2 separate regions of the Homo sapiens genome follow, and region 2 is linked to region 1. The links come from fine-mapping of genetic effects on gene expression. A gene starts in region 1. The other region holds a variant in brackets. All regions are shown on one strand. Distances are from middle to middle. Region 1 holds the start of COQ5 (coenzyme Q5, methyltransferase). Region 2 overlaps RNF10 (ring finger protein 10).

Evidence for each region. PIP is the estimated chance that this variant, and not a neighbour inherited with it, causes the effect.
Region 2: its variant is fine-mapped to the expression of COQ5 in whole blood (INTERVAL, PIP 0.96).

What each region holds. Positions count from the first base shown.
Region 1 is chr12:120,524,676-120,532,977 of GRCh38, reverse strand. COQ5 (coenzyme Q5, methyltransferase) reads left to right here and starts at 3,820. Exons shown (of 7, transcript NM_032314.4): 1 at 3,820-4,038. The coding sequence starts at 3,837. RefSeq lists enhancers at 3,484-3,943, 3,290-4,059, 4,060-4,830.
Region 2 is chr12:120,559,535-120,567,865 of GRCh38, reverse strand. RNF10 (ring finger protein 10) reads right to left here. Exons shown (of 17, transcript NM_014868.5): 7 at 6,980-7,140; 8 at 4,796-4,921; 9 at 4,243-4,519; 10 at 3,923-4,056; 11 at 2,677-2,794; 12 at 2,337-2,438; 13 at 886-1,041. Among named protein-coding and RNA genes, the nearest start is that of POP5, 18 kb to the left of the region's middle. The variant C/T (reference allele first, on the strand shown) is at 4,823.

The sequences.
Region 1 (8,302 bases):
AAGTAGAAACAGAGAACAAAAAGCAGATTAGTCATTTCAAAATTACTTTTCTTGTAAAGGTTTAAGCAGAATGGACTTCCTTATGTGGGGTAAAACTGACCAGTTTGGGGATTTGATGATTTCTCAGAAGGTCAGATAAACAATTTCGTTTAGGCGTGGTTGGGTAGAAATTCACCTTGAGTAACTCTGTTTTGGTTTGGTCTACTGTGCTGAAGCTCAGTGCAAAACAATGGGCTCCTATAAATTGTATTTAACAGCTGTTAACATTATCACATTTAATCTTCTCAATAACTAAATTTTAGACTAAGTGTGCCTGTAGTCCCAGCTACTCAGGAGGCTGAGGAGGGATGATCACTTGAGCCCAAGAGTATGAATCCAGCCTGGGTAACACAACAAGACTCTGTCCCTAAATAAATAAAATTTAAAGATGAGTAAATGGACTCCAAAAGTCCAGATAATTTGCCTATTATCACATAGCTAACAAGTGATGTTCTTACCTATGAGACAAGCAGTTCCTCATTTTACAGATACAGACTGAGATTTAGAAAATCATGCATATGGGGCCGGGCACGGTGGCTCACACCTGTAACCCCAGCACTTTGGGAGGCCAAGCCGGGTGGATCAACAGGTCAGGAGATCGAGACCAGCCTGACCAACATAGTGAAACCCCGTCTCTACTAAAAATACAAAAAAATTAGCCAGGCGTGGTGGTGCGCACCTGTAATCTCAGCTACTGAGGAGGCTGAGGCAGGAGAATCACTTGAACCCAGAAGGCACAGGTTGCAGTGAGCCAAGACTGCACCACTGTATTCCAGCCTGGGCAACAGAGCGAGACTCCATCTCAAAAAAAAAAAGAAGAAAGAAAATAATGTATGTGGGTCAGGTGCAATGTAATCCCAGCACTTTTTGGGAGGCCTGTAATCCCAGCACTTTTTGGGAGGCCTGTAATCCCAGCACTTTTTGGGAGTTCGAGGCGGGCAGATCACGAGGTCAGGATTTCGAGACCAGCCTGACCAATACAGTGAAACCCCGTCTCTCCTAAAAATACAACAATTAGCCGGGCGTGGTGGCGCACACCTGTAGTCCCAGCTACTTGGGAGGTTGAGGGAGGACAATCGCTTGAACCTGGGAGGCGGAGGTTGCAGTGAGCTGAGATTGGGCCACTGCACTCCAGCCTGGGTGACAGAGCGAGACTCTGTCTCAAAAAAAAAAAAAAAGAAAAAAAAAGGAAAATCATGTATGTGGCCAGGCAAGGTAGCTCAATCCCAACATTCTGGGAGGCTGAGGCAGGAAGATCACTTGATGTTAGGAGTTTGAGACCAGCCTGAACATAGTGAAACCAATTCTCTACTAAAAATTAAAAAACAAAAAACAAAAACATATGGTTTACAGATATAGACGCTAAGACTTTGGGAATCATACCACACCTATTTGTACTTTGGAAAATTACAAATGATTCCCTTCCAACCATAGTAGTTTGAGATTCAAAAGATCACATAGACATGCTATTAAGGAAATGACCAGGGCCAGGTGCGGTTGCTCACGCCTATAATCCCAGCACTTTGGGAGATTGAGGTAGGCAGATTGCCCAAGCCCAGGAGTTCAAGACCATTCAGGGCAACATGGCAAAACCCTGTCTCAACAAAAAATGCAAAAATCAGCCCAGTGTGGTGGTGCACACCTGTAGTCCCAGCTACTCAGGAGGTTGAGGTGGGAGGATGGCTTGAGCCTGGGAGGGTGAGAAGTGAGCTATGATTGTGCCACTGCACTCCACCCTGGGTGACAAAGTGAGATCCTATTTCAAAATAAAGAATGAATCAATAAATAAGTAAATAAGACCAGCCTAGCCAAAATGGTGAAACCCCATCTCTACTAAAAATACAAAAATTAGCGCCGGGAGTGGTGGCTCAGCACTTTGGGAGGCTGAGGCAGGTGGATTACCTGAAGTCAGGAGTTCAAGACCAGCCTGGCCAATATAGCGAAACCCCATCTCTACTAAAAATACAAAAATTAGCCTGGCATGGTGGCGCATGCCTGTAATCCCAGCTACTAGGGAAGCTGAGGCAGGAGGATCACTTGAACCCAGAAGACAGAGGTTGCAGTGAGCCGAAGTCATGCCACTGCACTCCAGTCTGGGCAACAGAGCAAGACGCTACCTCAAAAAAAAAATACCTTCCAACAGTCCTTGTCCTACTTCACTTTTTACAGGTTTTCCTCCACATATCATATGAAATAAGAGAACAGTGAAATACTGTTGGTCTGGATACTTAATCTGATGTGCAGAAGGAACAGCCCTAAATCCTGAGATCCATTCTTTTATATAACTAGATATGGAAGATATAAGATTCTTTGATGAGACTTTATTTATTTATTTATTTATTTATTTATTTATTTTTGAGATGGAGTCTGGCTCTGTCACCCAGGCTTGAGTGCAGTGGTGCAATCTCAGCTCACTGCAACCAGTGACTCCTGGGTTGAAGGGATTCTCCTGCTTCAACCTCCTGAATAGCTGGGACTACAGGTGTGCACCACCATGCCTGGCTGATTTTTGTATTTTAGTAGAGACGGGGTTTCACCATGTTAGCCATGCTGGTCTCGAACTCCTGACCTCATGCAATCCGCCCACCTCGGGCTCCCAAAGTGTTGGGATTACAGGCGTGAGCCACCGCACCCAGCCACTTAATTTCTTTTAACAAAGACATGAGAATTATGAATACATGGATGAATCATTTCGCCCTTGTATCCTTCCTTTTTTTTTTCTCATCACTATACCAACGAGGACCTTCTATCATTCTTAAAATAAAAGAGAAAGAAACAGAAATCCCAGCGCAGTACTTCCCAAACGAAAGCGGTTAGGTGTCCATCTGTCAGGCTATATTAAACCAGGAAGAGAATTTTCATTTCAAAACAGTTTCTTCTATTGGCGCTTTCTCCTCGTGAAATATTTACAGGAAACATACATTTAAAATGGAATGAAAGCAGAAACATACAGTAATCCAAGCAAAACTCAACAACGTCCGTTCTTTATTTTGCACAAGACGGTCTGCATTACCCTTGCCATTAAAAAAAGACTGAAAATCTGGGGCTGAAGTAAAACACCCATGACATGCCACCTGGAGCTAGGAATGTAGCTTTGTGTCAGCAGGAGACCAAGTGTGAGTGGTGGTTCTGGCTTGCTAAGTGGATACCAGAGCTTTCGTTCCCATTTATGAGCTTCCTAGGTTCATAAAACGGACAGAACAAAGAAGTCTGTCCTATGTTTATTTTTCAGAGTAGTGTAACATATGTTTCTCAAGAATGGTCTGCATCTTTAGCATCAGAATCGCCAGAGAAATTTGTTTAAATAGAGATTAAAGGGATATAGGTCAGATCAAAATCTCTGGTAGTTGGGGACCCAGGAATCTTCATTTTAAAACGTAAACCAAGTGATTCTTACGCTCAACAAAGTGTGCAGGAATTGGCCCGTGATCTTGGCTTTTTAACCACACCATGCCTCAATTTCCCCCTTCTGCACAAGACAACAAGAGTTCCTGGATATCTTGCGAGTTAGTACTTTTCTGCCTAGCCGGATTCAGAGACATGGCCGCTAAGAGGTGACCCGGGGCTCCCCTGAGATCCCCTGATTCCTGGTGAATTGTAAATTCAATTTGAGAAGAGAGAGAGGAAGGGATTTCCGATACTTAGAGACCACCCTTTGGATCCTAGAGATAATGCCGGCACAACTGTGTATCAGATTTCAGGGCGCGTTCGGCTAATAATGTTGCCGGCCAGCCGCCGTCGTTCGTGGAGTGACGCAACAAGGCGTACTCTCTGGCCGTTGTCACTCGACTACCAAGATGGCGGCCCCCGGGAGCTGTGCTCTATGGAGCTATTGCGGCCGTGGGTGGTCGCGGGCGATGCGGGGCTGCCAGCTCCTCGGGCTTCGTAGCTCTTGGCCCGGGGACCTACTAAGTGCTCGGCTCTTGTCCCAAGAGAAGCGGGCAGCGGAAACGCACTTTGGGTTTGAGACTGTGTCGGAAGAGGAGAAGGGGGGCAAAGGTGAAAGGGGCGAGAGGGCGGATGGGAGGGATCTGACCGTCCATGGTCTGGTTTCTTCTGGCCAGTTAGGGTTGATTTAACATCCAATTAGTTCCAGTGTTGTTGTCTGTGCAGTTATGATTTTTTTTTTTTTTGGAGACAGAATTTCGCTCTTGTTGCCCACACTGGAGTGCAATGGTCCGATCTTGGCTCACTGCAACCTCCGCCTCCCGGGTTCAAGCGATTCTCCTGCCTCAGCTTCCCGAGTAGCTGGGATTACAGGCGCCCGCCAGCACGCCCGGCTAACTTTTTTGTATTCTTACTAGAGATGGGGTTTCACCAGGCTGGTCTCGAACTCCTGACCTCAGGTGATTCGCCTGCCTCGGCCTCCCAAAGTGCTGGGATTACAGGCGTGAGCCACCGCGCCCAGCCAGACGCCCCCTTTTTAAAAGCAGAATACTGATGACTAAATCCCATCAACTGAGCGTTTGTGATGTGCCAGGCAACGTACAGACATTATTTTCAATTCTCATTTTCAACATTCCAGTAGTGGGTATTGTTATTACCATATTACACGTGAGGAAATTGAGACTTAAAGGTTAAGCAAGAAGTTGCCCAGTTGAACATATCAGTAAGTGGCGGAACCAGTATTCAAACCCAGTTTAATCTGAGTCTGAAGCCCCCGTTCTTTACCTCTAGAGAAAAATAGGGGTTTTTTTGGTTGTTTTTATTTATTTATTTATTTATTTATTTATTTTGAGACGGAGTTTCGCTCTTGTTGCCCAGGCTGGAGTGCAATGGCGCAATATGGGCTCACTGCAACCTCAGCCTCCTAGGTTCAAGCGATCCTCCTGCCTCAGCCTCCTGAGTAGCTGGGATTACAGGCATCTGCCACTGTGCCCTGCTAATTTTTGTATTTTCAGTAGAGACGGGGTTTCTTTTTTTTTTTTTTTTTTTTTTTTTTTTTTTTTTGAGACTGAGTCTCTCTCTGTCACCCCCAGGCTGGAAGGCAGTGGCGCGATCTCGGCTCACTGCAAGCTCCGCCTCCTGGCTTCACGCCATTCTCCTGCCTCAGCCTCCCGAGTAGCTGGGACTACAGGGGCCCGCCACCATGCCCGGCTAATTTTTTGTATTTTTTTTTTAGTACAGACAGGGTTTCACCATGTTAGCCAGGATGGTCTGGATCTCCTGACCTCGTGATCCACCTGCCTCGGCCTCCCAAAGTGCTGGGATTACAGGCATGAGCCACCACACCGGCCAATGTATAATCAACATTTTACAATGTATAATCAATGTATAATCAACATTTCACACAGTGGCAAGCAAGGAAGAAGTTAACTACTGAACTAAATATGAATTCCAGATTGGGGACTGAGATTGCAGTACAGACAGTCCTCGCTGTGCACAGTAATGCAAGACTGTGAAAATGTGCAAGCTGAAGTCATACACAATGACCTTAATCAATGGGAAAAATTAGAATTGTTTTATGACCTTTAAAAATTATCAACCATCAAAAACCCTGTCAGTTATAAATGTATAGTGAAATGAAAAAATATATACTGAAGTTGATATTTATTTACAGCCAGGTGCGATGGTTCACACCTGTAATCCCAGCACTTTGGGAGGCCGAGGTAGGCACTTGAAGTCAGGAGTTCGAGACCAGCCTGGCCAACGTGGTGAAACCTCATCTCTACTAAAAATACAAAAAAAATTAGCCAAGCATGGTGACGCACGCCTGTAATCACAGCTAATTAGGAGGCTGAGGCAGGCAAATTTCTTGAACCTGGGAGGTGGACGTTGCAGTGATCTGAGATTGTGCCACTGCACTCTAGCCTGGGCGACACAGTGAGACTGTCTCAAAAACAAAGAAAAAAAATTCTAATAAAAAATTAGAAACCTTGAGAATTAAATTCTTTTATTTCCTTGTAAAAAAATTGCCAAGAGTAGGCTGGGCGCAGTGGCTCACGCCTGTAATCCCAGCACTTTGAGAGGCCGAGGCGGGTGGATCATGAGGTCAGGAGATTGAGACCATCCTGGCTAACACGGTGAAACTCCGTCTCTACTAAAAATACAAAAAAATTAGCCGGGCATGGTGGCGGGCGCCTGTAGTCCCAGCTACTCCGGAGGCTGAGGCAGGAGAATGGCATGAACCCGGGAGGAGGAGCTTGCAGTGAGCCGAGATCCTGCCACTACACTCCAGCCTGGGCGACAGAGCAAGACTCTGTCTCAAAAAAAAAAAAAAAAAAAAAAAAAAAAAAAAAATTGCCAAGAGTAGTTTGAGCACTATTTGCCACCTTCTTGTCGTATGAAATATCTTTTCTATGCCTTGGCAAATTGCCATATTTCTTTCTAAGTTTTTATCTACTTCTGATATTTTATCCTTTGTGCTTTCAATGTTATGAAATACCTCCAAGAACTCCTTTAATGTGAAAGTTTTTGCTGGCATCACTTCTTCTGGGACATCTTCAACCTTTTTGTCACAGCTCCATTTCTTGTTCATGTTGGTAAGTTCATCTTCCTGCAGTTCCTCTGGCTGTATGTCTAGAGTCTCTCCAGTGGCAGCAGTGTCAATATTCCCACAGTCATCTATTTCTCCTATAACTCCACTGACACTCAATTTGAATTTCACTTCCAGCATTATCAGCATTTTCATTTTTGTTGCTCAATTCCCTCTTTCATTTATCCAGTTATGCCACGTGTGCTTTATCACTGAAAGATAAAGAGGCAATACAAGTACATGCTTTACTGTCTGTGAACTGAGTAACTGATGCAGTGACCAGTCACCTAAAGTCTGGGAAAGAAGTGCGTGATTGGTTGCTGAACATGTTGTGTATCTGTTATTTACATAGTGATTTGTAGGCTAAAGAATGTATTTTATGTAATTACTCATATTTAATATACCATTGTACTTGAATTGTGGTATTGGGTGACTGGTGTTGTTTAGCTAAACCACAGTAACTGAAATTCATGCATATTGGAACATGCAAAGCCAGGACTATTTGCTTATTTATTTATTTATTTATATTTATTTTTTTGGAGATGGAGTCTCGCTCTGTCGCCCAGGCTGGAGTGCGGTGGCACGATCTCAGCTCACTGTAAGCTCCGCCTCCCAGGTTCATGCCATTCTCCTGCCTCAGCCTCCCGAGTAGCTGGGACTACAGGCGCCCACCACCACGCCCAGCTAGTTTTTTTGTATTTTTAGTAGAGATGGAGTTTCACTGTGTTAGCTAGGATGGTCTCGATCTCTGGACCTCGTGATCCCCCCGCCTCAGCCTCCCAAAGTTCTGGGATTATAGGCATGAGCCACTGCGCCCAGCCTTGTTTATTTATTTTTGAGACAAGTTCTCACTATGCTGCCCAGGCTGGGGTACAATGTCTATTCACAGGCACAATCATAGCACACTGCAGCCTTGAACTCCTGGGTTCAAGCAGTCCTCTCCCATTAGCCCCCCGAGTAGCTGGCACTCCAGGTGTGTGCCACCATGCCAGCAAGGAGGACTATTTATACCGAGTGGGGTTAGCCTTAGTGTCCCCCAGACACCCCAAAAGATGCTCAAAAGAGCAGGCTGGGCGTGGTGGCTCACGCCTGTAATCCCAGTACTTTGGGAGGCTGAGGTGGGCAGATCATGAGGTCAGGAGTTTGAGACCAGCTGGCCAACATGGTGAAACCCCATCTCTACTAAAAATACAAAAATTAGCCAGGCATGGTGGCAAGTGCCTGTAATCGTAGCTATTCGGGAGGCTGAGGCAGGAGAATCACTTGAACCTAGAAGGAGGAGGTTGCAGTGAGCCGAGATTGCGCCACTGTACCCCAGCCTGGGCGACAGAGCTAGACGCCGTCTCAAAAACAAAAGTCCGGGCACGGTGGCTCACACCTGTGATCCTAACACTTTGGGAAGCCAAGGCGGGCAGATCTGAGGTTAGGAGATCGAGACTATCCTGGCTAGCAGTGAAACCCCATCTCTACTAAAAATACAACAGATTAGCTGGGCATGGTGGCACGTGCCTGTAGTCCCAGCTACTTGGGAGGCTGAGCCAGGAGAATTGCCGGGAGGCGGAGGTTACAGTGAGCCAAGATCACGCCACTGCACTCCAGCCTGGGTGACAGAGCAAGACTCCGTCCCAAAAAAAATTTAAAAAAAAAAAAGGAAAGAGCGCACTTGGAAATCCGAAGGTTGAGAATAGGCGTTGAAGTTTGAGTTAAAGGCGGGCTCTGTAGTCTGATTCAGCAGAAGAGAGTCATGTTTTCAATCTGTGTAGCACATTTCATCTGAGGAACTCAAAG
Region 2 (8,331 bases), 35 kb before region 1:
CACACCCATAATGAAATGCTTTAGTTTTGTGGTGGTGGTGGTGTTTTTTTAAAACCCACGAACATTTATTCTTGTTCTACAAATTACTTTTATCTTCCCATTAGTACGTGAATAGAAGAATTACATTCCCTTCTTTAACAGGTGTGATTTTTTTTTTTTTTTTTTGAGACAAAGTCTCGCTCTGTCGCCCAGGCTGGAATGCAGTGACGCAACCTTGTCTCACTGAGACCTCCGCCTCCCAGGTTCAAGCAATTCTGTTGCCTCAGCCTCCCAAGTAGCTGGGACTACAGGCGCCTGCCACCATGCCCTGCTAATTTTTGTATTTTCAGTAGAGATAGGGTTTCACTGTGTTGGTCAGGCTGGTCTTGAATTCCTGACCTCGTGATCCACCCGCCTTGGCCTCCCAAAGTGCTGGGATTACAGGCATAAGCCACCACGCCCGGCCTTCTGGTGTGAAACATTTTACAGTATAAATACTATAATTTAGTCATTTTCTTATTGGTAGGCTTTCTAAACTGTTTTTTTTTTTTGAGCTATTAAAACGATGCTACAATAAAGAGACATGTACAAAGATGTTTAGGCATACAGGGGAGTATCTCAAACAAAAACTAGAAACAAAAATAGGTGGGTCAAAGGGAAGACTCCATTTTCAACTATCCTGCCTAAAGAGCTCCTTGAGGTGCTTAGAAGCTGGCAGGGTAAAGCAGTCAGTATAGCAAGTGGGAAAGATGAATAAAAGAATTTGATGTACCTCAGGACTACCAAAGTAAGGTTATGCCCCTGAAGTCCACACCATGCTGAGTGGGCCGGGGTTGTAAACTCAGACACCAAAGCTTTGCATAAGGTCTAACTGATGGGTGAATTCATTAAATTTCACCTGTTTACCTGCATGGGAACCTGGACTTCTGCTGAGAGGAGAAATGGAGAGGGCCCCATGGCCCTCGGTGCTGGTGGGACCCAAAGCAGAATCAGAGGAGCAGGTATAAGAATTGAAGGCAGGAAACTGCTGTAGATTCTCGAGGGGAATGTGGACTTCTGGGTCTGCAAAGGAAAGATAACCCTTGTAAACCCATTTACAGAATTCAATTTTTTTTTTTTTTTTTTGAGATGGGGTCTCACTCTGTCACCCAGGCTGGAGTGTAGTGGTACGATCTCTGTTCACTGCATCCTCTGCCTCCCAGGCTCAAGCGATCCTCCCACCTCAGCCTCCCGAGTAGCCGGGACCACAGGCACGTGCCACCACACCTAGCTAATTTTTTGAATTTTTAAAGAGATGAGGTTTCACCATGTTGTCCAGCCTGGTCTTGAACTCCTGAGCTCAAGTGATCTGCCCACCTTGGCCTCCCAAAGTGTTGGGATTATAGACGTGAGCCACCACACCTGGCCTGAATTTTTCAAATAGTTTCCAACAGTTGAGGACATCACACATGCGTACCCCCAAAGGTCTAGAGGATGCAGACAAAAGCTAAAACCCAAATTTACAATAACTGTCCTTCTATAATGTCTTTAATATAGTTAACCTTGTTCTAACTATTCATAATTGAGGCTGGGTAACAAACATGCAGGTTAATTACATTGTTCTACTTGTCTTGATATTTCCATAATAAAAAGGTGAAAACAAAAAATCCTATTCCTGAAATATCAGTTTTCTCAAAGTTCAGGACATGTGCCAAACACCTACACGGTGTTGGGACCCCAAGTATACACTTGTCCCACTTGAGATATAAAATGTATGTTTCCATGCCATATGGAGTCAAAACACCGAAGTCCTTTTCTGGGCCAAGGACTCAGTTCCTTGTGTTCTAGTGGATAATGGGACCTCAGGTCACACTAATCCCCTGGATTCAATGAAACTTATTTTGGAGAACCAGATCAAAAGGCTGTGCTTACTGCTACGAAAGATCTCTTAAATCCAACTTCCTGCATTTCCTAGTCTATCAAAATTTCCATCTTATCAGACCCACCTGGCAGACTTGCTGTGTATAGCTGGTCCCTTTAATAAAGAGTCAGAGGTAAGGTCAGTGATCCAGAGAGCATGGGGAACGATGGCCCCCAGCATTCTTAGCGAAGCCCCAATTCCCATCTCTGGAACAGGTGTATATCACCCACTATTACCAAGGCTGAATTTCCTCTTAATCCTTACTATGTGCTAGGCACTTTGACCCATATTAACTCATTATATTTGCAAGCAAGCCTATTAAGGAGGTGCTCTCATGATTCACATTTAAAAGTTGAAGAAAACAAGTGGCTAAGGTCTGGCTCCCAGGTCCCAGACACAGAGTTCTATACAACGACGTACAGCAGTGCTAGTCAAAGATGAAAGTTCCTGAACTTACACTTGCCCTGTTTCTTGTTCTCCTCTATCTCAATCCTGCGCTCTCGGCGGCGTTCCTCCCGAGCCTTCTTTTGGCGCTGACGTTTCCTCTTCTCAATGTCATCTGCAGATTGGTCAGGTTGTAAAGAGGTAGACCCAGGACAACATGGTCATTACCTCCTCCCAGTATTAGCAGCTAAACCCACAACAGTAGGCCCAGCTGGACTAGATGAACAGATGAAGTGTTTAGGAGGTACTAAGACTCATGATACAGTTCCATAAGTTTCCTCCCCCACTGGGTGTCTAGCCACAAGAATCCCTGAACCCTACTATAAAGAGAAGCAGAGCAGGGGCATTCTCACCTGAGAACATCTCTAGGGTTTCCTTAGAGACCACAGGAGGTTGCAAAGCCAGTTCACAGATGCTGAACTCACAGGTGAGTGGCAAGTGAGAGAGATATCTGTGACGCTGTCGAACATCCTACATTGGAAAAAGGACCAATACTCAACAAAAGCAAGCCTAACTCTGAAAGCAGGGGGTCCTAACCCCGATATCCAACAATATATACATAACACAGCCAGCACTGGGGCTGGAAACAGTAGTGCTCAATTATCCTCATTTTGAAAAGCCAAAGAGAAACTGTCAACCTACAGCAAGGTGGAATAAGCAACCAAATCCAGTTATTTTTGGTTTGTACTGCAAAGGAGTGAACTGAGTCCAGCAACAAATAATCTAAAGCCCATCAGCTGTTTCTGATTTTTTCAAGGCCCCACAGCTGAGGGGGACGAACAGAGAAGATAAAGTTATTTGTTGGCAGAAAAACAGAACAGAAAAAAACCTGGGAACCACTGACAGAATAAATAACTGGGAAGGAAGATAAAGCAGATCTCCCTATTGAAAGACACTTGGCCTGAAATAGTAGAAAATGAAGCCCAATTTTTTTTTTCTGAGACATGGTCTTGCTCTGCCGCCCAGGCCAGCTCACTGCAGACTTGATCTCCCCAGCTCAGGTGATCCTTCTGCCTCAGCCTCCTGAGGAGCTGGGACAACAGGTGCACATCATCATACCCAGCTAATTTTTTTTTGTATTTTTTGTAGAAATGCCCTGGCTGGTCTGAAACTCCTAGCCTCAAGCAATCTGCCTGAGTAGGCCTCCCAAAAGTGCTGGGATTACAGGTGTGAGCTACCACATCCAGCCCATTTATTTTCATTTCTATTCTTTTTCTGCATATGTTTGATGAAAAATTTATAGTACTCAAAGAGTCTAATTTTAAATCTTACAACAAATTTGTGACATTTCTCCCAAGCAATAAGGAGGATAAGAAACAAAAATAAACTCCATCTTAAATAAAAGAAATATCTATATCCCCAAACTACAATCAATGAACCAGAGAAGCAGGGAACAGCATTAACTGATTTAACAGAACCCTGGCATGCTGAGGGGACACTTCACTTACAAAGAATTCACAGCACCATCACTGACAGAAAGACTAAAAATACAAAAACTAAAGGCCTTGAAGGTTTGTGAACTTAGGATGGCTAGGCCTACCTCAAAGAGATTAGGTTAATACTGCTGCCTGACCCTCCATTTCTACAGGAAGGCCTCACCTCAGACATGGAGTAGCCAGCAATCTCCACCACAGTTGCTGAGATCTTCTCGGGGCTCCTCTCCAGGCTGCCGTACTCCCGCACGAGGCAGCGCACATTCACAGGGTGCAGGAACATATGCTGTCCATCTTCCGCTGAGGACAAGGGGCTCTATCACACACCAGTCTTGGCCAGTCCCCAGGAGGCTCCCCACCCCTCCCCATGCCCAAGGGCTCAAGCCACCCAAGCCACAGGATCTAGTGGCGCTCCTCTGCTTAGAGCACCGGGTCACCTCTGAAACACCTCTGCGGCAACCCAGCCCTCTCTTCCGGCACCCTCACCTTGGTAAAAGTAGTAACAAGGAGAGCTGCTGAGGCGTGTGAAGCCTGACTTGGTGATGGGTTCCTGCTGGCTGGACTCAGTGCAAATGGTCCCCTCTTTAAGATTGTCATCTGCTAACTCCAAGTCATCACAGGCCTCTGGCAACCCCTCAGGCTCTGGTTCAGACACTGCTTCCTCCTCTTCTACCAGAGGGAGAGCAAGAGGTCTAGAAGGAGTGTCCAGAGAACAAACTTCCGTGGTTTCTTCATCGAAGGCAGACAGATACTCCAGCACACCCTGTTGCAGCAAACTCTAAGTCAACAGAAAGGATATCTCCTGCTTTCCGAAAGCAATGTGGCAAATGCAGACCTAAGAGCCAAGCTCCCTAGATGTTTATCTTAGCTGTCGTGTTCACTGATTTAACACCCCTGGGGAAAGAACTAATAACAAGCATACAGAAAATACTCATTGTCCCCTCTTCTCTTGAGAAGGTTTAGATCTCACAGTAATGCCTACCAGCTCAATGACAGCATTTGAGGAACGGCAGCCACTTAGTAACAGGAACACACTAACCTTCCTGGGTTGAAAAACAGACTCCTT[C/T]GCCAAGGGAGCCATCAGCACCAGTTGTTCCAGAGCAGCCACAACACCAGTGACCTCCCTTCTGCTTCCGGCCAATCCCGACAGAGCCTCTTCCCGAGTCTAACGTGGCCAGAGAGAACACCAGAGAAGGTTAAGTTTCCAGACACACACTTAGCTTGAAGGGCAAGGGCTTAGAATGGCCTCTCAACAGGACCAAAAGTTAAAAGGCAATGAGACCCAATGGGAAGGAATTAGGTGCTTAAATATCTCAACTTTGAGGGAAACAGGAAGCAAAAAGCATGCAATACCCACTAAGGATTGGAATCTGCTTAGAATCTGACACTGGGGAGTGTAAATTAGTTCAATCATTGTGGAAGACAGTGTGGTGATTCCTCAAAGACCTAAAGACAGAAATAAAATTTCACCCAGCAATCCCATTACTGGGTATATAGCCAAAGGAATATAAATCATTCTACTGTAAAGACACATACGGCCAGGTGTGGTGGCTCATGCCTGTAATCCCAGCACTTTGGGAGACTGAGGTGGGCGGATCACCTGAGGTTGGAAGTTCAAGACCACCCTGACCAACATGGAGAAACCCCATCTCTACTAAAAATACAAAATAACCCAGGCATGGTGGGGCATGCCTGTAATTCCTGCTACTCAGGAGGCTGAGGCAGGAGAATCACTTGAACCTTGGAGGCAGAGGTTGTGATGAGCCGAGATCACGCCACTGCACTCCAGCCTGGGCAACGAGAGCAAAACTCTGTCTCAAAAAAAAAAAAAAAAAAAAGAAAGAAAGAAAAAGAAAAACCAAATATCGCACACATGTTCTCACTTCTAAGTGGGAGCTAAATGATGAAACATGGACACATAGAGGGGAACACACACTGAGGCCTATCAGAGGGTGGAGAGTGGGAGGAGGGAGGGGATCAGGAAAAATAACCAATGGGTACTAAGCTTAATACCTGGGTGAAAATCTGTATAACAAACCCCCATGACACAGGTTTACCATGTAACAACCTGCATTTGTACCCCTGAACTTAAAAGTTAAAAAAAATAAAAGAGAATCTGACACAAACAACACTATACAAAAAACTTCCAGAACAGAAATCTAAGAACATGAAACTAACCTAGTTTTTACAAACTATGCTCAGACAGAGGTCCAGAGTAGTAGGAAGGATTTAGCTAACTCCACCTCAGCCTGGACAGCTCTAATTCTATGTAGCCTTTCTTATGCCTGTAATGGCATTTGAACAAATACGGCTGCAACGTATTATAGAAAGAAAGCAAAAGTTAAATACACAGGACTCTACCCAAGGAGCCCTTGGGAGTCAGGGAGAAGGGAATTCAAATACCAGCTGCATCCCTTACTAGCAAATTACCCAACCCAGGATTCAGTTTCCTCATCCATGAAAGGGGATAGTTCTATCTACCACACTAGAAGCTTAAGTGAGATAAATGTGTATAGCACAAGTCCTATCAAATGCTGATCACTCAATAAATATGGGCTTCTATTGCTCTAAGCTAGATCAGTGGTTCCAGGAGTGTGGTCTGGGGATGAGCAGCCATCAGAATCACCCTAGAACTTGTTATATGCAAATTACTGAGCCTACTGAGCTTAACCTATGCAATCAATATCTCAAAGTGGGACCTAACAACCAGTGGTTGTGATGCTTCAAGAATCTCTGTTGTGGAAGATAAAAGACCCAGGGAATTCTGTTCTTGTGTAATTCTTGCCGTTTCAGGTACTCCTAAGGCATACTGGGCAGGCCATAATACTTTCTCCACAATGTCTTTCAAAACACCTCTAGAATAGAATCTTAAGTATTTTCCCAGAAAACAAAGAACTCTAACTTGCTTTAAGAACATAGCTAATCTAAAAAACTCCACTGTCACAATTAGTTATAAAATCATTTTGACTTGCTCCTTTCAGCTCTAGAAAGAGCTTTAAAAGCCCTAGGTTAAACCTTCTCTACTGTCATCAAACAAAGCCCAAAACAAATTGGCTTTTTTAGCCATTCTCTGCTTATTGTCTTAAATGTGGAATGGAACTAACTTAATCCCCAGCGTCCATCATCTCACCCCCGACAGAGTGAAAAGGTTTAGCATTTCTGGTTTTCACCACAGAACGCCGAGAAAGTGAAAAGGTTTAGCATCTCCAATGCATCCTCTCACCTTGAGCTCCTGGATAGCTGCCTCAATAAAGCAGGACTCGGGAGTGTGCTTCTCCTCTGCCAGCTGCTGCTCTAGTGCTACTTTCTCCTCCAGAACTACCCGGTGCAGCACCTGCTCCTTAGAGGCCAGCAGCAACTTGGAGTACTGGCTGTGCTGTTCATCTATAAGAATGCCAGCAAGATCAAAGAAATGCAACATTCAAAGCTCACGATGGTGTAGCTAAATAGGAATTTTCAAATACAGCCTTTTCTCTGGGGTGAAAATGGGGTAATTTAGCATGATTTCCTAGAAAATAATTTAACAATGGTCTTAAAATAAGGTCTGTAGCTCTGCTCTTGATATAAGAAATCTAAGAAACCCAGAGATGTAGTCAAAACTTTAGTCACGCGTTTATTGTTACAGCATTGTATGTAATATCAGAAAAGCTCAAACCAGCCAGGCACCATGGCTCACACCTGTAATCCCAGCACTTTGGGAGGTCAAGGCGGGTGGATCACTTGAGATCAAGAGTTCGAGACCAGCCTGACCAACATGGTGAAACCCCGTCTCTACTAAAGATACAAAAAAGTTAGTCGGGCCTGGTAGGGCATGCCTGTAATCCCAGCTACTTGGGAGGCTGAGGCAGGAGAATCGCTTGAACCCAGGAGGCAGAGGTCGCAGTGAGCCAAGATCATGCCACTGCATTCCAGCTTGGGCAACAAAAGCGAAACTCTGTCTCAAAAAAAAAAAAAACAAAAAAAACCACACACAGAAAAAGAAAAGCTCAAACCAACCAGTAAAACCAACAATAAAGAATAAAGAAATGGTGGACCAGCGCAGTGGCTCACACCTATAATCCCAGTACTTTGAGAGGCCAAGACAGGAAGATTGCTTGAGTTTAGAAGTTTAAGACCAAGCCAGCTGGGTGTGGTGGCTCACGTTCAGCACTTTGGGAGGCTGAGGCAGGTGGATCACCTGAAGTTAGGAGTTCGAAACCAGCCTGGCCAACATAGAGATACCCTGTTTCTATTAAAAATACAAAAAATTAGCTGGGCGTGGTGACGGGCGCCTATAATCCCAGCTACTAGGGAGGCTGGAGTAAGAAAATCGCTTGAACCCAGGAGGCAGAGGTTTCAGTGAGCCAAGATCGCACCATTGCACTCCAGCCTGGGCAACAAGTGCAAAACTCTGCCTCAAAAAATAAAATTAAAAAAAAATAACACCAGGCGGAGTACGGTGGCTCACACCTGTAATCCCAGCACTTTGGGAGGCTGAGGTAGGCGGATCACAAGATCAAGAGATTGAGACCATGCTGGCCAACATGGTGAAACCCCGTCTCTACTAAAAATACAAAAACTAGCCAGGTGTGGTGG